Linked DNA regions of Homo sapiens: all the other regions are linked to region 3. Evidence: fine-mapped expression QTL. A gene starts in region 3. Each other region holds a variant in brackets. All regions are shown on one strand. Distances are between the middles of the regions.

What was found. PIP is the estimated chance that this variant, and not a neighbour inherited with it, causes the effect. A credible set is the group of variants that fine-mapping cannot tell apart.
Region 1: its variant is the best candidate, but not a certain one, in a credible set for the expression of LASP1NB in transverse colon (GTEx, PIP 0.64).
Region 2: its variant is the best candidate, but not a certain one, in a credible set for the expression of LASP1NB in whole blood (TOPMed, PIP 0.51).

Annotation. Positions count from the first base shown.
Region 1 is chr17:38,992,331-38,999,694 of GRCh38, forward strand. No RefSeq gene overlaps it. Among named protein-coding and RNA genes, the nearest start is that of FBXO47, 29 kb to the left of the region's middle. The variant ACT/A (reference allele first, on the strand shown) is at 2,887.
Region 2 is chr17:38,901,062-38,908,425 of GRCh38, forward strand. All of the region lies in intron 4 of LASP1 (LIM and SH3 protein 1), which reads left to right. Among named protein-coding and RNA genes, the nearest start is that of MIR6779, 10 kb to the right of the region's middle. RefSeq lists an enhancer at 303-928. The variant C/G (reference allele first, on the strand shown) is at 2,845.
Region 3 is chr17:38,922,380-38,929,743 of GRCh38, forward strand. LASP1NB (LASP1 neighbor) reads left to right here and starts at 3,235. Exons shown (of 2, transcript NM_001414697.1): 1 at 3,235-3,512; 2 at 4,038-7,002. The coding sequence starts at 3,315. The coding sequence ends at 3,392. RefSeq lists enhancers at 1-230, 7,314-7,364.

The DNA.
Region 1 (7,364 bases), 70 kb after region 3:
GTCTTAGAAACTGAACATCTTCAACTGACAAACTGTTTATCAACGTGGTTGTAACAATTTATACTCTCATTCCAGTATATATTTCCTGTTGTTCCATACCTTTGCCTAACATTTAGTAGTAAGACTTTATTTTTTGCCAATCTGATAGTTGTAAATTGTTCTTTTTTTTTTTTTTGAGACTGCGTCTTGCTCTGTCGCCCAGGCTGGAGTGCAATGGCGCGATCTCGGCTCACTGCAACCTCTGCCTCCCAGGTTCAAGCAATTCTCCTGCCTCAGCCTCCTGAGTAGCTGGGATTACAGGTGCCCGCCACCACACCCGGCTAATTTTTGTATTTTTAGTAGAGATGGGGTTTCACCATGTTGGCCAGGCTGGTCCCAAACTCCTGACCTCAGGTGATCCGCCCACTCGGCCTCCCAAAGTGCTGAGATTACAGGCGTGTGCCACCGCGCCTGTCCCATAGTTGTAAATTGTATCTCATTATTATTATTATTATTTAGAGTTGCTGTCACCGATGTTGGAGTGCAGTGTTACTTTCATAACTCACTGTAACCTTGAACTCCTGGGCTCAAGTGATCCTTCTGCCTCAGCCTCCTGAGGAGCTGGGACTACAGATGCACACTGCCATGGCTGCCTAATTCTTTTTGGTAGAGACAGTGGTCTCCCTACATTACCCAAGCTGGTCTCCAACTCCTGGCCTCAAGCAATCCTCCCACCTCAGCCTCCCAAAATGTTGGGATTACAGGCATGAGCCACTGTACCTGGCCAATGATTTTTAATTTATATTTCTCTGATTACTACTTAGGTTGGGCATCTTTTTTGTATGTTTGGTTTGTTAGTCTTTGGATTTCCTTTTTTCTGAAGGATATACCCATGTCTTCCCATTTTCCCATTGTGTTGTCTTTTTATTGATTGTGCTTCTTTCTGTATCCTAGATAATTTTTAGTCTCTTAATGGTATCTTTTCATGAACAGATGTTCTTTAGTATGAACGTAGTAGAATGTCTCAATCTTGGCACTATTGACATTTTGGGCTGGAAAATTCCTTGTTTTTTTTGTGTGTGTGACTCTGTGTGTGTGTGTGTGTGTGTGTGCGCGTGTGTGTGTGTTGGGGGCTGTCCTGTATATTGTAGGAGGTTTACCAGCATCCCTGGCCTCTGTCCATTAGATACCAATAGCACCCTTCTGCCCAAATTATGATAACCAAAAATGTCTCCAGACATTGCCGAAAGTGCCCTGGAGAGCAACATTGCCTTTCTGCCTCCTGTTTAAGAAATCCTCCACTATTCTGGTGGGGCGTGGTGGCTCACACCTGTAATCCCTGCACGTTGGCAGACTGAGGTGGGCAGATCACTGGAGGTCAGGAGTTCAAGACCAGCCTGGCCAAGGTGAAACCCCGTCTCTACTAAAAATACAAAAATTAGCCGGGCATGGTGGCACATAGCTGTAATCCCAACTACTCAGGAGGCTGAGGTAGGAGAATCGCTTGAACCTGGGAGGTGGAGGATGCAGTGAGCCGAGATTGCATCACTACGCTCCACACTCTAGCCTGGGCGACAAAGCAAGACGATGTCTAAAAAAAAAAAAAGAAAGAAAAGAAAGAAAGAAAAAGAAATCCTCCACTATTCTGAGGTCATGAAAATATTCTCTTTTATTATCTTCTAAAAGCTTTATGTTATTTTTCACTTTTCATATTTGGATTCCTGATTCACCTGGAACTGAATTTTGTATGTGGTGAAAAGTAGAGTTCGTTTTGTTTTTTTCTGTATAGATCCTCAATGTCCTAGTGCTATTTATTGCACTTATCTAACCACAAGCCCCCCTCTGTTATATGTCAAGTGGCATGGAGGCAGGTGTGTATTTCTGGGCTTTCTATTGTTTTCAGTGCTCTACTTTTCTGACCTTGCTCCAATATCACACTTCCGTAATCATTGTTGACTGTTAAAGAGGCTAGATCTGGAAAGGAAGTCCTTTTATTTTGTCTTGGCTATTCCTGGTCTTTTGTACTTTCATTTACATTTTAGAATAAGTTTGTCAAATTCTTCACAAAATCTGTTGGGATTTTGACTGAGATTGCATTGAATCTGTAGATCAATTTAAGGAGAACTGACATTTTTATAAATGTGTATCTTGCATTGCATGAACACAGTGCTCTATTTATTTTAGTATTCTTTAAATCTTTTAATAAAGCTTTATTATTTTTTCCTTAGAGAGCTCTGGCACATCTTTTGTTTGATTTATTACTCTGTACTTCATATATTTGATCCTATTATAAAGTATCTCTCTCTCTTTTTTTTTTTTTCGAGACGGAGTCTCACTCTTGTCGTCCAGGCTGGAGTGCAATGGTGCGATCTTGGCTCACTGCAACCGCTGCCTGCCAGATTCAAGCGATTCTCCTGCCTCAGCCTCCCGGGCAGCTGGGATTACAGGCGTGTGCCACCACGCCTGGCTAATTTTTGTATTTTTTAGTAGAGACGGGGTTTCAACATGTTGTCCAGGCTGGTCTCGAACTCCTGACTTCAGGTGATCCACCTGCCTCGGCCTCCCAAAGTGCTAAGATTACAGGCGTGAGCCACTACACCCGGCTACTTTACTTTTTAAACTTTTTTTTTAGATTCAGTGTCTCACTGTGTTGACCAGGCTGGTCTTGAACTCCTGGCCTCAAGCAATCCTCCCACCTCAGCCTCCCAAAATGCTAGTATTATAGGCATGAGCCAATGCACCCAGCTATAACTTTTCATTACAAAAAATTGTCAGTGTATATGAAAGGTGAAAGAACAGTACAATCAGCACACAAATACCTAGTTACAACAATTGTTAACATTTTATCATTTTTGCTTTGTCTATTTACCTTTACTTTTTTTTTTTTAATTTTAGAGACAAAGACTC[ACT/A]CTGTTGCCCAGGCTGGAGTACAGTGGTGAAATCATAACTCACGGCAGCCTCAAACTCCTGGGTTCAAGGAGTGATCCTCCCACCTCAGCCTCCGGAGTAGCTGGGACTACAGGTGCATGACACTGTGCCTAGCTAATTTTAAAATATTTTGTAGAGACAGGGTTTCACTATTATCCAGGCTGGCTTCAAACTCCTGGCCTGAAGCAATCACTCCCATCTCAGCCTTTCAAAAGGCTGAGGCAACTGATGTCAGCCACCATGCCTGGCATCTGCCTGTTTATCTGTCAATCAATCATCTATCTTTTATATATACACACATACATATATACATTATATATCTATATGGAGATGGAGTCTTGCCTTGTCACCCAGGTTGGAGTGCAATGGCATGATCTCGGCTCACTGCAACCTCCGCCTCCTGGGTTCAAGCGATTCTCCTGCCTCGGCCTCCTGAGTAGCTGGGATTATGGGCACCTGCCACCACACCCAGCTAATTTTTGTATTTTTAGTAGAGACGGGGTTTCACCGTGTTGGCCAGGCTGGTCTCAAACTCCTGACCTCAGGTGATCCACCCACCTCAGCCTCCGAAAGTGCTGGGATTACAGGCATGAGCCACTCAGCTGGCCATATATATATTTAAACCATTTGAAAGTGTGTGTGTGTGTGTGTGTGTGTGTGTGTGTGTGTGTGTTTGAAACCATTTGAAAGTTTATGTATGTGTATATATATATATAAACACACACATATTTTTATTGTCTATTTGATTCTTCCTTTTTATGCTTACTTTTTTCTTCTCTCTTCTTTTTGATCAATTACTTTTCATCACTTCATTTTTTTCTTATTTTTCCCCCTCTACTAGTTTGGAAGCTAAATATTCTATTTCTCATCTTTTAGTGACTGACCTAAAAATTTATTGTGCATGCTTGACTTACCAAAATCCACAGTAAATCTTTATCCTTTTACCTTCTCCCATACACCACAATGGCCTTAGAACACTTGAACACCAATCGCTCACCTTCTGACTTCTATGCTACGGGCTGTGTATTTTATTCTGTCTTGGTTTATTCCATCAAGGTTTCATTATGCACAGACAGAGGAGGAGCTCAGTCCTTGTGGCAGCTGCTTTCCTAATGAAGACTGGGGCCCTGCTCAGTCCTTCCCACTCCCTCTTGCTGAGGATGTATGTCCCCACCCTTTTCTTGATGAATGTGAGGGCCAGATCTCCCGTGGATATTTGGAACAGCTCCGCGGGCAAGTTGCTGGCTTGTTTCAGGTGAAGCCCACGCTTCTCAGATCACGCCCCACAAGAACCTGGTGTGCTTGGCGCCATGCCTGCCAGGGGGCTGTGCTTTGTCTTGCTCTCCCTCTTGGTCACCTTATGACCCTTGTTGAGGCCCACAGGGAGTACCAAGCCACGGCTGGGCCTACCCTGTGGCCCTGGGGGTCCGGATGGCAGTGGACACCCTCTTGTTAGCTTTTTAGATGTTAGCTGTAGATTTTGTTGTAGTTTTATGTAGTCAGTAGCAGATCAGATAAAATACAGAGTTCACATGTGATTCACTCCTTCCTTTATCTCATTCCTTCCATCTGAGGTTACGTTCCTTCTGCCTGAAGTAGTTACTTCAGGCTGAGGTAATTGATGTGAGCCACTGTGCCTGGCATCTATCTGTTTATCTGTCGTTTCCTAAGAATTTCCTAAGAAAAGGGTCTTTGGTAGCAAATGATTTTAGGTTCTATTTGTTTGATATTCCTCCTCCTCCTCTCCTCCTCTTCCTCCTTCTTCTCCTTTGTTCTTTATAGATATTTTCAGTGGGTATAGAGTTCTAGGTTGATGGTAATTTCCTCAGCACATTGAAGGTATTATTCCATCATCATCTTACTTTTATTGTTGCTCTTGAGAAATCAGCTGTCAATCAAATTGTTTCAGGCTGAAGTTTTCTGACTCTTTTGTCTGTTTCTTTTCTTTTCTTTTTTTTTTTTTTTTTGAGATGGAGTTTCGCTCTTGTTGCCCAGGCTGGAGTGCAATGGCATGAATCTCAGCTCACTGCAACCTCCACCTCCTGGGTTCAAGCAATTCTGCTTCAGCCTCCCAAGTAGCTGGGATTACAGGCGCCTGCCACCACGCTCAGCTAATTTTTTGTATTTTTAGTAGAGATGGGGTTTTGCCATGTTGTCTAGGCTGGTCTTGAACGCCTGACCTCAAGCAATCTACCCGCCTCGGCCTCCCAAAGTGTTGGGATTACAGGTATAAGCCACTGCGCCCAGCCTCTTTTGTCTGTTTCTAAGATCTAGTCTCTGTCTTCAGTGCTCTGCAATTTTATTATAATGTGTTGAAATGTGGATTTCCTTTTATTTCTGTTATGAAGTTACTGAGGTTCTTGAATCTGGGTATCTTATTTTCCATTTATTTTCTTTCTTTCCCTTCCTCTCTCTCTTTCTTTCCCTTCCTCTCTCTCTTTCTCCCTTCCTTCTCCCCTCCCTTCCCCTGCCCTCCCCTTTCTTTTTCTTTTTTTTTGACAAGGCCTTGCTCTGTTACCTAGGCTGTAGTGCAGTGGTGCAATCACAACTCACTGCAACCTCCACCTCCAGGCCTCAAGCAATCCTCCTGCCTCAGCCTCCTGAGTAGCTGGGACTACAGGCATGCACCACGACACCTGGCTAATTTTTGTGTTTTTGCAGACACTAGGTCTCACTATGTTGCCTAGGCTGGTCTCAAACTCCTGGCCTCAAGCAATCCTCCTGCCTTGGCCTCCCAAAGTGCTGGGATTACAGGTGTGAGCCCATAATCCCAGCAGTGAGATTACAGATACAGTGCCCGGCTCATTTTCCATTTATTTTTCTCACTGTGCTGTCATCTGCATCATTTCTTTCACTCTGTTTTCTCTGCTTTTTTTCACCCCTTCTTCCTCTGAACTGCCTTCTCTTTTCAGTTGTGTCTAACCTGCTATTAAATCTGTCCAATGAATTTAAAATTTTTATTACTATATTTTTCATCTCCAGAATTGTATTTTTTTTAAAAAAAACTGCTTGGTCATTTGTATATTCTTTTATTATTAATTCCATTTGTCTGTCTTTCTTTTTCTTTTTCTTTTTTTTTTTTTGAGACAGAGTCTTGCTCTGTCACCCAGGCTGGAGTGCGGTGGCACCATCTGGGTTCACTGCAACCTCCGCAGTCCCGGGATTAAGCGATTCTCCTGCCTCAGCCTCCCGAGTAGCTGGAACTACAGGCATGCACCACCATGCCCAACTAATTTTTGTATTTTTAGTAGAGACAGGGTTTCACCATGTTGGCCAGGATGGTCTCCATCTCTTGACTTCGTGATCTGTCCACCTCGGCCTCCCAAAGTGTTGGGATTACAGGTGTGAGCCACCATGCCTGGCCTCATTTTTATTTCTTAAAAGCTCTAAAATAGTAATTTTATGTCATGTTTCTGATAATTTCTATATCTACAGTCTTTGTAGGTCTGATTCTGCTGTCTATATTTCTGCTTCTTTTGCTCATGGTGCCTAGTTTGTTTCGGTTTTGTGATTTTTGATTCTGTGGTTATTTTTATCAAAACTATATGTGGGAATTTTTTGAGGCCTGAGATAAAGGTGGGTTCTTCTAGAGAGAATTGCATATGCTTCTTCTAGCACTTTAGGTACTTAGGACCACTTTGTTTTATTTTATTTATTTATTTATTTATTTTTGAGGTGGAGTTTCACTCTTGTTACCCAGGCTGGAGTACAGTGGTGCCATCTTGGTTCACTGCAACCTCCGTTTTTTGGGTTTAAGTGATTCTCCTGCCTCAGCCTCCCGAGTAGCTGGAATTACAGGTGCCTGCCACCAAGCCCAGCTAATTTTTGTATTTTTAGTAGAGATGGGGTTTCATCATGTTGGCCAGGCTGGTCGCAAACTGCCGACCTCAGGTGATCCACTTGCCAGGTGATCCACTTGCCTTGGCCTCCCAAAGTGCTGAGATTATAGGCGTGAGCCACCACACCTGGCCCTTAGGACCACTTTAAATTAAAATCTCTGCTGGAGGCTTTTCAGACGATTCGACCCTGTGAAACTAAACTGCAAATTGTTAGGACTAGCTTTTATATCTTTTTCAGGAGTTCTTTTTCACTTTTTTTTTTTTTTTTGAGATGGAGTCTTGCTCTGTCACCCAGGCTGGAATGCAGTGGCGCAATCTTGGCTCACTGCAAGCTCCGCCTCCTGGGTTCACACCATTCTCCTGCCTCAGCCTCCGGAGTAGCTGGGACTACAGGCGCCTGCCACCACGCCTGGCTAATTTTTTGTATTTTTAGTAGAGATGGGGTTTCACTGTGTTAGCCAGGATGGTCTCGATCTCCCAACCTCGTGATCCACCCGCCTCAGCCTCCCAAAGTGCTGGGGTTACAGGCGTGAGCCACCACACCTGGCCCTTTTTCACTTTTATGTAGTACCAAGAACCAAGGCCATTTTGGCTATAGCCCCTTGTGGTCAGATGTAT
Region 2 (7,364 bases), 21 kb before region 3:
TGTAGAGGCTCTAGTCTTTTATCAGTGACACTTGCTCCCAATGTGCAACCCCAGCTCCCTGGCTGTTCACTCATTGCTTCACCCTGTGGGTTTTGGAGGAGGGGAGACAAGCCCAGTCATCCCTGCTTCCCTTTCTGGAAGGCTTCCAGAACACTCCACACTCAGCCTAAGCCACCTCCTCTTCTTCCCTCCCCCAGTTAGAGGTGTTAATATCCTAGTGACAAAACTCACCACCCTGGCCAAGCCATCCGCATCTCAGGAGATAACCATCTTTTACCCTTCTCGCGGTGCTGCAGTGAGCTAATGGTCCTCTGCAGGAGCTGGGGGAAGGGATCGACCCCGACCTGCTAGCTGCTTTTGCAGCTTTAGCAGAGACCTGTAGGGTGTGAATGCAAAGCCTGGAGACTCTTGGTTTTAATGAAAGCAATTACAGTCTGTCGGATATGGGCCTCCAGACAGCTGTAGCACAGTCACCTGTAGGGTTGACTGAAAATGCAGACTCACAGGCCTTCTCCCCTGGCTGCCAGAATCAGCGTCTCTGGGAGTGGGGCCCAGGAATCAGCATGTTAGACACATTCCCTGGGTTTCTGTGGTGCTCTCTGAAGTTTGAGAGCCACCACCTAAAAGTCTGAAAAAGCTTCACCAACCCCTAAGTCAGAGGGTGCCAGATCAGGCTGTACCTCAGAACCCCAGGGGAGCTTTATTTTTATTTTTATTTTTTTGAGACGGAGCCTTGGTTTATCACCCAGGCTGGAGTGCAGTGGCGCAATCTCGGCTCACTGCAACCTCCGCCTCCCGGGTTCACGCCATTCTGCTGCCTCAGCCTCGTGAGTAGCTGGGACTACAGGCGCCCGCCACCACGCCCGGCTAATAGTTTTTGTATTTTTAGTAGAGATGGGGTTTCGCCGTGTTAGCCAGGATGATCTTGATCTCCTGACCTTGTGATCCACCCGCCTCGGCCTCCCAAAGTGCTGGGATTACAGGCGTGAGACACCGAGCCCAGCCTATTTTTATTTTTGAGACAGGGTTTCGCTCCGTCATCCGGGCTGGAGTGCGGTGGTGTGTTCACGGCTCAGTGCAGCCTGAATCTTCTGGGATCAAGCCATTCTCCCACCTCAGACTCCGAGTAGCTGGGACCACAGGTGTGCACCACCATGCCCAGCTAATTTTTCTTTTTTTTGCAGAGACACTATCTTGCTATGTTGCCCAGGCTGGTCTCAAACTCCTGGATTCAAGTTATCCTCCCGCCTCAGCCTCCTAAAGTGCTGGGATTATAGGGGTGAGCCACCTCACCTGGCCTCCCAGGGGAGCTTTTTTTTTTTTTTTTTTTTTTTAATCAGAGACAGGGTCTCACTATGTTGTCTTAAACTCCTGGACTTAAGTGATCCGCCCACCTCGGCCTCCCAAAGTTCTGGGACTACTACAGGCATGAGCCACTGCGCCTGGGAGCTTTAAACCACACATAAAACCATTGCTAAGTTGTCCCAACCTCCTGAAGTGTTTTGGAAAATAGGGTGTTTAGAGCCACACCTTTTGTTTTGTATCCAAAATAGCATTCCTGTTCCTGTATGTAGCTTGTTGCTTTGCTTCCCAGATTAGCACCAAATGACTCCAGTTACTTTATTTATTTATTTTTAATTTTAGTTTTATTTTATTTTTGAGATAGAGTCTCGCTCTGTCGCCCAGGCTGGAGTGCAGTGGCGTGATCTTGGCTCACTGCAACCTCTGCCTCCCGGGTTGAAGCGATTCTTCTGCCTCAGCCTTCTGAGTAGCTAGGACTATAGGCACATGCCACCACGCCTGGCTAATTTTTGTATTTTTAGTAGACACAGGGTTTTGCCATATTGGCTCGGCTGGTCTCGAACTCCTGACCTCAGGTGATCCACCTGCCTTGGCCTCCCAAGGTGCTGGGATTACAGGTGTGAGCCACTGTGCCCAGCTGACTCCAGTTATTTCTAAAGGTCAGGCCATCTTACAAAAGAATGAGGATATGCTTCCTTGGAGGGATATGCTGCAGACTAGGGCTTTTTACCAGCCAGAGCATTTTAAAAACAAGTGTCTGATCTCCTCTGGGGTGTCTGCTTTGGATAAGTGCAGTCTGTCTTCAGTCTTGCTAAGTGGTGAGACAGTGAGGTAGGAAGAGATGGTAAGGGCCCAGATCCTAGCTTCTGTCATTCTGGGGCCAGGCAGGGCTCTTTGAGCCTCAGTTTCCTCATTTGTAAAAATGGGACAGTAGGCCCTACTTTGACAGGTGGTTGCAAGGAACATGCCAAGTGCTTGGCATGGGATAAATGATATCACTCTTATTATCATCATTATTATTTTTGAGACAAGATTGCCCAGGCTGGAGTACAGTGGCACGATCATAGGTCACTGCAGCCTCGAACTCTTGGGCACAAGTGGTCCTCTCCCGTCAACCTCCTGAGTAGCTGGTACTACAGGCATATAGCACCATGCCCAGCTAATTGTTATTTTTTTTGTAGAGAGAGGGTCTTGCTATGCTGCCCAGGCTGGAGTGTAGTCACGTGATCACAGCTCACTGCAGCCTTGAACTCCTGGGTTTAAGTGAACCCTGGCCTAAGACTCCCAGGTTGCTGGGATTACAGGCACACGCCATCACACCCAGTTATGTTGTCAATGTTATCAATACTTTAAAGGCACACTTGTCTGCTTTCTACACTGTTGCCGGAGAAGGGTCATAAAGTGAAGTTTGGCAGAAAAGTTTGGCCATTGTCTAGTACTGAGAATGTGTGGAAGTGAGGAAAGGGGCCAGTATATTACACATCTATGGTGAGTAGTTGTGTCATCATTAAAGGCATTTGAAGAGTTGCCTTTTGATGGGTC[C/G]ATGCTATGGGATAAAGGTTACATGTTAGGAATCCTGGCCTTTTGTCATGAGCTCTAGCAGTGTTCAAGTATGGAAAACTTTAGTCACTTTACTGGAGCCTCTTCTTTTATTTACTTACATATTGATTTTCTGTATACAATTTTGTGTCCTTAAAACTTTTTTTATGTGTGAAATATGACACATAGTAACATATACAATAAACACCTGTTTCACCAGGCAGGTATACCATACATTGTATTACTGTATGCCTGTCAAGAGCCCAGTGTTCACAGTGTTAAAAATATAACTCCCATGTAGTAAGTACTTATCATATCTTTATTTAATTATGAGGGAACCAGCTAGAGATTAAAACTGGGGAATATGAGAGGCAGAGGTAAATGCTAGTCTGTGAAAGAAAGTGCTGGGGCCGGGCGAGGTGGCTCATATCTGTAACCCCAGCACTTTGGGAGGCCGAAGCGGGCAGATCACCTGAGGTCTGGAGTTCAAGACCAGCCTGGCCAGCATGGTGAAACCCTGTCTCTACTAAAAATACAAAAATTAGCCAGGTGTGGTGGTGCACACCTGTAGTCCCAGTTACTTGGGAAGCTGAGGCAGGACAATTGCTTGAACCCGGGAAGTGGAGGTTGCAGTGAGCTGAGACTACACCACTGCACTCCAGCCTGGGCAACAGAGCAAGACTCCGTCTCAAAAATAAAAAAAAAAAAAGGAAAAAAGAGAGTACTGGATACATTTAGCTACAGAAATGGTTAAGGGCCTACCATTAGTTACACATTGGCTATTGTCCTACAGGAAAATAAAACCATAAACTTTGAAGATATCTTTGCTGCAGGCAGAAATGCTTTGCATCTCAGTTGGCCAGAAATAATGAGCATTTTATACTCTGTAATGAGCTTCAGTCTTTAGAGTCTGGGCCTAATCAATAGTAAATAGTCAAACAAAGTTTTGTCCCCAGAGTAAAATACTCTGAAGGCAGGTTTGTTGGACAATCCTCTAGTTTGATTTTGAAAGCATGTATTTTTCATTATAATTTTAGTATGTAATTATGTATTCTTAAACACTATAGTTTTGCTTTTCCTGATTTTGAACACAGAGTAATTTTGTGTATCTTGCTTCTCTTACACACCATTGGGTTTAAAGATTCATCCATATGTTTGTGTGTAGCGGTAGTACATCCTTTTTCATTGCTATATAGTATTCCATTGTTTGTTTATACCACATTTTATTGATTCTGTTGCTGGTGGACATTTGTACTGTTTCCAGTTGCTATGGACATTTTTGTACATATCTCCTGAGGTCTATGTACATTGGAACTGCTGCATCTTAGAATGTGTGCTCCTTGGGCCGGGCCGTGGTGGTTCACACCTGTAATCCCAGCACTTTGGGAGACCGAAGTGGGTGGATCATGAGGTCAAGAGATCAAGACCATCCTGGCTAACACAGTGAAACCCCGTCTCAACTAAAAATACAAAAAATTAGCCGGGTGTGGTGGCGCACTCGGTGGCGCAATCCCAGCTGCTCTGGAGGCTGAGGCAGGAGAATCACTGAACCTGGGAGGCAGAGGATGCAGTGAGTTGAGATCGCACCACTGCATTCCAGCCTGGGCGACAGAGTGAGACTCCATCTCAAAAAAAAAAAAAAAAAAAAGTGTGCTCCTTCAACTTTACGAGATAATGCGGAACTATTTTCCAAGTGGCTGCACTGATTTACCCTCCCACCAGCAGAGATGAGTTTCATTTGCTCCATGTGCTCAGATATGTTCACTTTAGCATTTTGATCGTGTAGAGTGTGATAGCCGATGGTTTTAGATTGCATTTCTGTGATTACTAATGAAGTTGAGTACAGACTTTTGTTTGTTTTAAAAATAAAATACTGGGGCATGGTGGGCTCACGCCTGTATCCTAACAGTTTGGGAGGCTGTGGTGGGAGGATTGCTTGAGGCCAGGAGTTTAAGACTTGCCTGGGCAACATAGCAAGATACCATCTCTACAAAAAAAAGAAAGAAAATTAGCCGTGCATGGTGGCATCCACCTGTAGTCCCAGCTACTCGAGCGGCTGAGGTGGTAAGATTGCTTGAGCCCAGGAGTTTGAGGCTGCAGTGAGCCATGATCACGCCACCGCACTCCAGCCTTGGTGACAGAGCGAGACCCTGTCTCTAAAAAATAAATAAATAAAATATTGTGAGTCTCTGATGGGGAGCAGTATTGCATGGTGGTTGAGAACTGAGGCTCTGATGTTAGAACTGGATTCTGACTTAACCCACTGTTTGCCCACATCTTGAGCCTTGGTTTCCCTATCTGTAAAATGGCAGTATTCTCGGGCTGGCTGAGGAAAGGAAATGAGGCCAGGCGCGGTGGCTCAGGCCTGTAATCCCAGCACTTTGGCAGGCTGAGGCAGGTGGATGATTTGAGGCCAGGAGTTTGAGATCAGCCTGACCAACATGGCAAACCCCCGCGTCCACTAAAAATAGAAAAAAATAGCTGGGCATGGTGGTGCACCCCTGTAGTCTCAGCTACTTGGGAGACAGAAGCAGGAGAATTGGTTGAACTTGGAAGGTGGAGGTTGCAGTGAGCTGAGATCGCACCACTGCACTCCATCCTGGGCGACAGAGCAAGACTGTCTCAAAATAAATAAATAAATAAATAAATAAAGTTAAAAAAGAAAAGGAAATGAGTAATGCATGTAAGGGCACCCAAAAAAAGACCCTAGCTGGTGAGCTGATGATTCCACCCAGAGCCTGCTGTTCCCTCGTTCACTGTGATGTATAATCATGTGAGGAGCACCGTATGGAGAGTCAGACTTTTATTTTCCACCACAGTTGGGAGAGCAGGGGGGTCAGAAAACAGAACATCAGCTAGCAGAGCTTTGTCATGGACCCTAACTTGTCATCCTGGAGTCCCAGCTAGTAGGGTCCTGGCTGAGTCGGGAGGGTCCTTAGGCCTGGACCCCTGAACCCACATGTACTTGGACCTCATGGGCACAGGTAGAGTGTGGCCTGTGTCCACAGAGGCCCAGGACAGCTTCCAGGCTGGGGGCTGTGCTGACATGTCTGGGCTTAGGGCGCTCCTCACTCAGGGCTCTCTGAAGGCCAGAACTTTGCAGAGCTTGGAGCAGGGATGAGCCAGGCCCTTGGAAGCTGGGAAATGTTTCCTTGCCTTCTGAATGTGCTAACATCCCCCTCATGTGCCTATTTGCTTAACAAACCAGTAGGTGGGTCAGGAAAGTAATAACACAATTTCCTCATTTGCTGGCGAGGGGAAGGAGAGGAAGCTGAGGGTTTGGAAATTTTATCCAAGTGGGCCCAGGCTGGAAGGAGCTGAGCCTCACTTTTTCTCAGCCCATTTAGCCGCTCTGTGCCGCCTGTCCTGAGTTGCATGCCTGGTGTCCCTCTCTCTCGAGTTAGGGTGACTTTCTGATTATCATTCTTGTTGAGAGTGAAAAGGGGTGCATTGAAATTTATCCCTGAGCAGCAGACATGAACTGGGACTTGGGCGTGTGGTCACCCTGCTCCACACCTGTTCTCAGGAAAGGGCCTGTCTAGCTGTGATTTTGTCCTTGTGTCACCAGCCTTGGCTGTTACTGAGCAATGAAAGCTCTGCCTCGGGAAGTCATTTAATTTCTGAGCCTCATGTTCCTCTTCTGGAAGATGGGAATGAAAGTGTGCGTGTCCGGCCCATTTTTTAGGGCAATGATTGTCAGGGTATGAAGAGCTTGGTCAAGCTGTGTGAAGAGCTGTACAGCTGCAGAGGTTGTTAACATTGATAGAGCCACCCAGGAAGGGTGTCCTGGGTTCAGGCAGCTACTCCTCCAGCCGTCGGGTCAGCCAGCCGTAACTTTAGATACACTTATCCATGTGTAATGACTTTTTAAGAAGCAAGATCAGTTTCCCCAGCCCTTTATGGGAATACCCATGTGTCCATACTTGCTTTCAGCTTAGAGTTTGCTCAGGTTCCTAGAGCTGGTCAGGGTTTGCAGGACCGCCTGGGAGCAGATGGTACCATGGCCTTATTTACAGATGAGGAAACTGAGACCCAGAGGGGAAAGTGACTCCCAAGGTCATGTAGGTAAGCATACGGCTCCCCTAAGGATGAGGCATTGGTCTGGTGACAGTGCAGCCCATCATAAGGGACTGAGCCTGTGGGGTCCAGACCTGCTCTCCTCCCAGAGGAAAAGGCTCCCTGTCACCCCATCGCTAATGCAGATAGCGTCATGTCCAGGGAAGCTGTCACACATTCATCTGGGCCCCCAACATCAAGGACACCTGTCCCTGCAGGCCCCCTGCTGGCACCTTCGGGGCCCAGGGCAGGCCCCTGTCCATTCCGTGTCTGCACTTCCCTCCCTGGTCACAGGTTCTCAGGGGCAGGCTCTTTTCCTTAGCAGAAAGGAAACAAGGGAAGCTGACCTTTCCCACCTCAGAACAAAAGTTGGAAGGGCAGGTGCCTCGTGAGCCTGGAGGCCTCAGGAGGGGTGTCCCCTTCCCTTGTGCCCTCCCCGCCACCAACACCAGTGGACAGGGATCACT
Region 3 (7,364 bases):
ACCTGGATAAAGCTGTCTGTAAGGTGGCCTGGCAACCCAAAGCACTATTCACAGTGCCTTCTGAATGTAATCTTTAATACACATCCCCTTTCTTCCTTCTTCCTCACAACCCTGTGAGAGAAGTAACTACTTATAGAGGGGCTCACTGAAACCCAGAAAGGCAAAGCAGATTGGTGGCAGTCACAGCTAGTGGCAGAGTGGGGCCTGAGACCCCCATGTGATGCTCACAGTCTGGTGCTGTGCCACCCGGCCATGGCAGGCCGCGTGCCTGTGTCTGTGGCAGCTCTTAGATGTGTGTCTCCTGGGCTCCATGTTTTGCTCCAGGTGCCCAGGGTCTGTGACTGGCCAGAAGGCCAGGCGGCCTCCCCTCTTGCTCATTGGGCTTGGGAAGAGGACAGTGGTAGAGAGGGGAATCTGGCCCTGCTCAGTGCTGCCAATCAGCCTCAGGTCCAGCTGCTTGAGGGGCATTTCTCTCTTGGGGCTCAGAACTAAGGAATTCTCCAGCCTCAGAATCACAGCAGGGTGGAGAGGAGGAGGGCTCTCCTGAGCTGAGCATTTGTAATCTGGAGAATGACATGGCCAGAGTCAGCTGAGCTGGGGCAATGTGGGGAGCATCCAAGGCTGCCCTGGGTGGTATAATTAGAGACAGCACTGACACCTGCTCCCCTCCAGGGGTGCAGGCAGCCCAATACTTTCCCAATAGAAGGGAATTAGTTGGCAAAGCTTGCCTCATGTCGGCCTGCCCCACTCCCCGGGAGGCTTCATTCACCTTCAGATCTATTTGATGGAACAGTGCTTTGGGGGACATTGCTGCCAAGTCTCCACTCCCTGCTCACAGAAAGCTCTGCCTCCTGGAAATGGGCCAATGGGAGGAGTTTCTGGATTTCCTTCTGGCAGTGGCCTAAGTTCCTGAGGTCTTGCATTATGAGGGGGTTACCAATATATCTTAACCCCAGGCCTTTAAAAAAAATATTATTTGGGGTGGGGGCCAAGGAGACTAGGCCTCAGAGACGTCCTAGGGAATGATTTAATTTAATAGAAAATAATTGAGGCTTATAAAAAGGCACAAAAATCCTGGCTAACACAGTGAAACCCCGTCTATACTAAAAATACAAAAAATAAGCTGGGCGCGGTGGCGGGTGCCTGTAGTCCCAGCTACTCGGGAGGCTGAGGCAGGAGAATGGCGTGAACCCGGGAGGCAGAGCTTGCACTGAGCTGAGATCGTGCCACTGCACTCCAGCCTGGGTGACAGAGCAAGACTCCGTCTAAGAATAAATAAATAAATAAATAAATAAATAAATAAATAAATAAATAAAAAGAATAAAATAATTCTCTTTTCCCCCTCAGAAGAAACCACTTGAATTTTTTAAATTTCAGGGATACCCCTGGGGAATTCTTCAGTGTCCTCTCTGTGTACAACACTATGCTGAGCTTTTGGAAGAGGATACCAAAGAAAACAAAACTAGGCCGGGTGCGGTGGTTCACACCTGCAATCCCAGCACTTTGGGAGGCTGAGGTGGGAGGATCGCTTGAGTCCAGGAGTTTGAGACCAGCCTGGGCAAAATGGCAAGACCCCGTCTCTATAAAAAAAGAAAGAAGGAAAACAAAACAGTGGGTAATGACTGCAAAGAGACGAAGGAGTGGGTGGAGGAGGGGTCTCTGGTGCTCGTCCTGTAGGTGGATCGATGTGAAAGCAGTCCACTGCAAGCTGAGCAGTGCACGTGGGGTGTAGGGGCCTTCCGGACCAACAGGGGGAGCAGTGTGGCGCAAGAGGAAGAATATGGACTTTGGTGTCAGCATGCCTAGTTTTGAATCCTGGTCTCTGACATTTTTAATTAATTAATTAATTATTTTGAGACGGAGTTTCACTCTTGTTGCCCAGGCTGGAGTGCAATGGCACAATCTCAGCTCACTGCAACCTCCACCTCCCAGGTTCAAGCGATTCTCCTGCCTCAGCCTCCTGAGTAGCTGGGATTACAGGCATGTGCCACCATGCCCAGCTAATTTTGTATTTTTAGTAGAGCTGGAGTTTCTCCATGTTGGTCAGGCTGGTCTTGAACTCCTGACCTCAGGTGATTCACCTACCTCAGCCTCCCAAAGTGTTGGGATTACAGGCATGAGCCACCACACCCAGCCTTTTACTTTTTATTTTATTTATTAATTTATTTATTTTTGAGACGGAGTCTCGCTCTGTCACCCAGGCTGGAGTGCAATGGCACGGTCTCAGCTCACTGCGACCTCTGCCTGCCGGGTTCAAGCAATTCTTTAGCCTCAGCCTCTTGAATAGCTGGGATAACAGGCACCTGCCACCACGCCCGGCTAATTTTTATTTTTATTTTTTTTTTGAGACAGAATCTTGCTCTGTAGCCCAGGCTGGGGTGCAGTGGCGCGATCTCAGCTCTGCCTCCCGGGTTCAAGCAATTCTCTGCCTCAGCCTCCCAAGTAGCTGGGATTACAGGCATGCACCACCAAGCCTGGCTAACTTTTGTATTTTTAGTAGAGACAGGGTTTCACCATCTTGGCCAGGCTGGTCTTGAACTCCTGACCTTGTGATCCACCTGCCTCGGCCTCCCAAAGTGCTGGGATTATAGGCATGAGCCACTGCGCCCGGCTGGTCTCTGACACATCTAAGCTATGAACCATTAGGGTAAGTTTCTGACCATCTCTGAGCCCCATCTATGAAAGACTCATAGGGAGGTTGAAATTGCACCACATGTACGATATCTGGCCCAGTGTAGGAAATGTATAAATGTTAGCTTCATCCCTCAGGGAAGCCCACTGAGATCCACACGAAACTTTTGTCTGTGTCTCCCCATAATGTGACCTTTAGAAGTTGCCAATGGCCCACCCAATACCCAACCATGATTTTTCTGAGATAATCTGCCCGAGGTGTGTGAGAGGAAACGCGAAGAAGGCAGTCAGGAGGATTCACTCTTGGGGGAGCTGGGTAGGATCCTATCTCCTCCTACATCCAGAGCATGCAGGCTCCATTTAGATACAAAGGGGTGGGATTGGGTTCCTGGGGAGAAATTGAGCCCCTTTGATTCTGCGGTTCTGTGGGTCTAAATCTGGCATCTCCTTGGCTATCCACCCCCAGGCTTTGTGATTGGTTGGCTGTGGTTGGTGGGGGGGCAGGAAGCTGCTGGTGGAGCTGCAGCATCCTTCAGTCTCAGGCCCCTGGGAGGGGGAGGGGAAAGAACCAGGGCTGAGCTGTGGAGTGAAGGGGAGCCATTTCTCTCCACCGACTGCAACCTCCGTGCTCACAGCTCACGGTTCACCAGAATCCAGGGGCTTGGTCGGCCTAGGAATCCACAATGCTGGATATTTTCATCCTGATGTTCTTTGCCATCATAGGCCTGGTCATTCTGTCCTACATTATCTATCTGCTCTAGTGGCCTGGAGCTGCGGCCGGAGCCTGCTGGAGAACAGCTCAGAAGGAAGGATGGAGATGAATGGCCGAGTGCCCTGCTTGCTGACGCACCGGTGGATTTTTGCTTCTGCTGTTATCTCGGGTATTGATTCCAAAAAAAAAAGAAAAGAAAAAAAGAAAGAGTTTGCTTTCCTATTTTTTTTCTTAGACCACTCTGAAAAGAATAAGAAATGCCAGCTTCTTTCTTTGGGACCTAATTTAAAATAAGACTTTAAAAATTACAAATAAAATCCACAATGTAAACGATTTTTAGGCAGAACGGGTTGGGAATGATGGATGTGGTGGGGAGGGACTATTATTTCCTAATTTCTTCTTCAAGTTAGGTGCTCAAACTCAAGTTGTCTATTTTCTTCTGGTAATTAAAGGTAAAACACATCTTTGCATGTCAGCATACTTGCAATATAGTTGTTTACAACTATGCTTGTATAATTGCATTACTTAATGATTGACTCATTCTTATTTGAGGGTGAGACGGCAAATAAATTTTACTTGGGGTGGGGTTTTCGGGGAGATGTCCAACTGTGGGATATGGTGGAGAGGAGGGAGGAACTCCTGGTACTTTGCAGTTGTCCCCATCTGAGACTTTTTATTTCTGGGTTTCTTACAGCTCCTGGTCTCTCCAGTCCAACAAGAGGCCTCTCATCCACAGAAGCAGTCCTACTGCCCAGCAGACCTCTTTCAGAGCCTTCCAGACATGGCTGACCCCTGGCAAGCAAGGGGCTTTTTGAGCTGAGAGGCACTTGGCTGGGACTTCAGGAATTCATGGACAGGGCTGGCAGATACTGCATATGTTTGAGCTGTAGATGGGATTGAGAACAGAAAGTTGAAATGGAGACTTATTAAAGTTACCGTGGAGAACTGCTCAAAAATTCATTTTGAATTAAGGAAACTTAAATTCATTTTAAGTTTCCTTAGATCTAAATGCAACTGCACATTACACTCAAATATGTTCCTTCCTTCTCACACACAGGACTCCCTTGTGAAACTCAAGGGGAAGTTCAAGTTGTCCATCTTCATCTATGAAGTAGTCACTTTATCACTGTCTTTACAGATTGCACAGTCTGGGGTTTTGTGGTTTCTCTTGTCTCACTCTCCAGCCAGGAAGAACTTGTCATTTGAGTTTTTAAAATGTATCATTTCTTCCCCACCTCAAACCACTTGTATCCCAGTTTCTCATTTAAAGGGAGAAATGGTTATATAGTCCTCTCTTTGCACCTGATTGAATTATAAATGATAGAAACAAGATGGCTATACTTATTTAGGAAAAATCTCTTACCCCAAAATGAGTGTGTGTGTGTGTGTGTGTGTGCGTGTGTGTGTGTGTGTGTGTTTTAATCAAAGATCTTTTCTGGAAAAAACTTTCCACATAGTTCTCTGACCCATTAGAGTTGAAGAAACTATGTATTTTGGGATTCAGAGTAGAATTGGCCTGCAAATCTGGGGTGTTTATTCCTTTTACAAGTCTATCATAATTGTTCTACATTTAATTTTCCTTTCTTGCTTAAAAGTAAACAAGGAGAGTCAGGAGTGGTGGCTCATGCCTGTAATCCCAGCACTCTGGGAGGCCGAGGCGGATGGATCACCTGAGGTCAGGAGTTGGAGACCAGCCTGGCCAACACGGTGAAACCCCGTCTCTACTAAAAATACAAAAATTAGTCAGGCACAGTAGTGCGCGCCTGTAGTCCCAGCTACCCGGGAGGCTGAGGCCGAAGAATTGCTTGAACCCGGGAGGCAGAGGTTGTAGTGAGCCGACATCATGTCACTGCACTCCAGCCTGGGAGACATAGCGAGATTCCGTCTCAAATAAAATAAAATAAATAAATAAATAAACAAGGAGAAAGATTAGTTTTTAGTAATAACATTGTGTCCAATTTCCATGTTTTAAAACAAAAATTGAGGCATTATATGTCACAACTGAAATGGAAAAGTTGTGTTTAAAAATTATGGACAAGGCCGGGCACGGTGGCTCACGCCTGGAATCCCAGCACTTTGGGAGGCTCAGGCAGGAGGATCACTTGAGGTCGGGAGTTTGAGACCAGTCTGACCAACGTGGTGAAACCCTGTCTCTACTAAAAATACAAAAATTAGCTGGTGTGGTGGCAGGTGCCTGTAATCCCAGCTACTCAGGAGGCTGAGGCAGGAGAATCGCTTGAACCTGGGAGGCAGAGGTTGCAGTGAGCCGAGATCACACCTCTGCACTCCAGCCTAGGTGACACAGCAAGACCCCATCTCAAAAAAAAATAATAATAAAAACATAAAAATTATGGACAAGAAAAAACACTATTCTGGAAGCTTTGTTTTGGCAACAAATTATATGACCTGACCTTTCATAAGTCATTTAAACTTTAGGGCTAGGCCAGGTGCTATGGCGCATGCCTATAATCCCAGCATTTAGGGAAGTAGAAGCAGGAGGATAGCTTGAGGCCAAGAATTCCAGACCAGCCCAGGCAATATAGCGAGACCCCCGTCTCCACAAAAATAAAAAATAAAATAAAAATAAATAAATACATAAACTTTAGGTCCTCTGTTTATTCTGTCAAATGAAAGTGTTAGGCCAAGGTCGCATTATCTCTTTGGAAACTACATCGAGAACAGAATTCCCATGGAACGAACTCTTAATAGTTCACTGGTAGTCCCCCTTTTCTGAATATTCTTCCCAACATGACACTTTATAACAAAAATTTAACTGCAAAACTCTTTTTTTTTCACCAACAGCCAGATTTTGATGAGAAAATGGCCATATTTATTTACTCCAAATATATATTATGTCTGTGATAATTTGCCTAAACTGTTTAAGGAATATTAACAAGTATGATACTGCATCGTGGTATGTAGCAAAAAGATAGGTAATCTGACATACATGGATGCAAGCAGCATGGCTGTGAACCTGGATATATTTAGAAATGATCTTCAGTGGAGTCCTTGATGTGACATTTTCCACTAAAACATTCTTCTAACTCTGGTATATCTTAGTGTTTCGAACTATAATTTCCGTCTTCAAGCCAAGACAGCAGCTCTACATCCTTACCTAGGTAATTCAGGCATGCGCCAGTATTTTGGAGGGGTCCAAATTAGAGTTAGTTATGATGGTATAGATCTTTAAAGTATAGTCTAACCAAGCTTGCTCTGGTCTTTTGTGACATCAAGGCTTCTCAGTCTGTATTCACATAAAGTTGAAACAACTAATCAATTCAGTGAAAAAAAATCAGCAGATTTCACTCATACACTGGTGATATATACCACTGGTATTGGGTACAATGTAAGGAGAGAGGATTACCCATCTCTTCAGTTACTTGTAAAATATGATTTTAAAAAAATAAATCAATACATTTTGGAAAAATTATATGACTTTGTGCTTATATTTATGCAACAATATGCTAGCTTATAACAGGGTTTTACTGTGTTATTTTGATAGTTGTTTAAATTTTACATTTAAACTATTTGTATTTTGGCATCCCAAAACATAATAAAACACTGCAAAAAGTTACCTCTGTAATATAAGATTTTGTATAAATTTTATAAATTTGTGTCATAGGGTAATTTTGTCCAATAAAATGTCAATGAGATAAAAACCACTCTGAAGAATTATAAATTACTTAGAAAAAAATCAAGTGACAATGCTAAGAATCATTACACTAATACCTGCTTTCTTGATGAAAACAGGGGGTTTGTGGGGAAGAATGATGTATTTTATTTATTTTATTTTTTGGTTTTTGAGACAGAGTTTCGCTCTTGTCACCCAGGCTGGAGTGCAATGGCACAATCTTGGCTCACTGCAACCTCCGCCTCCTGGGTTCAAGCGATTCTCCTGCCTCAGCCTTCCGAGTGGCTGGGAGCACAGGTGTGCATCCCCATGCCTGGCTAATTTTTGTATTTTTTAAAGTAGAGACAGGTTTTCATCATGTTGGCCAGGTTGGTTTGGAACTCCTGACCT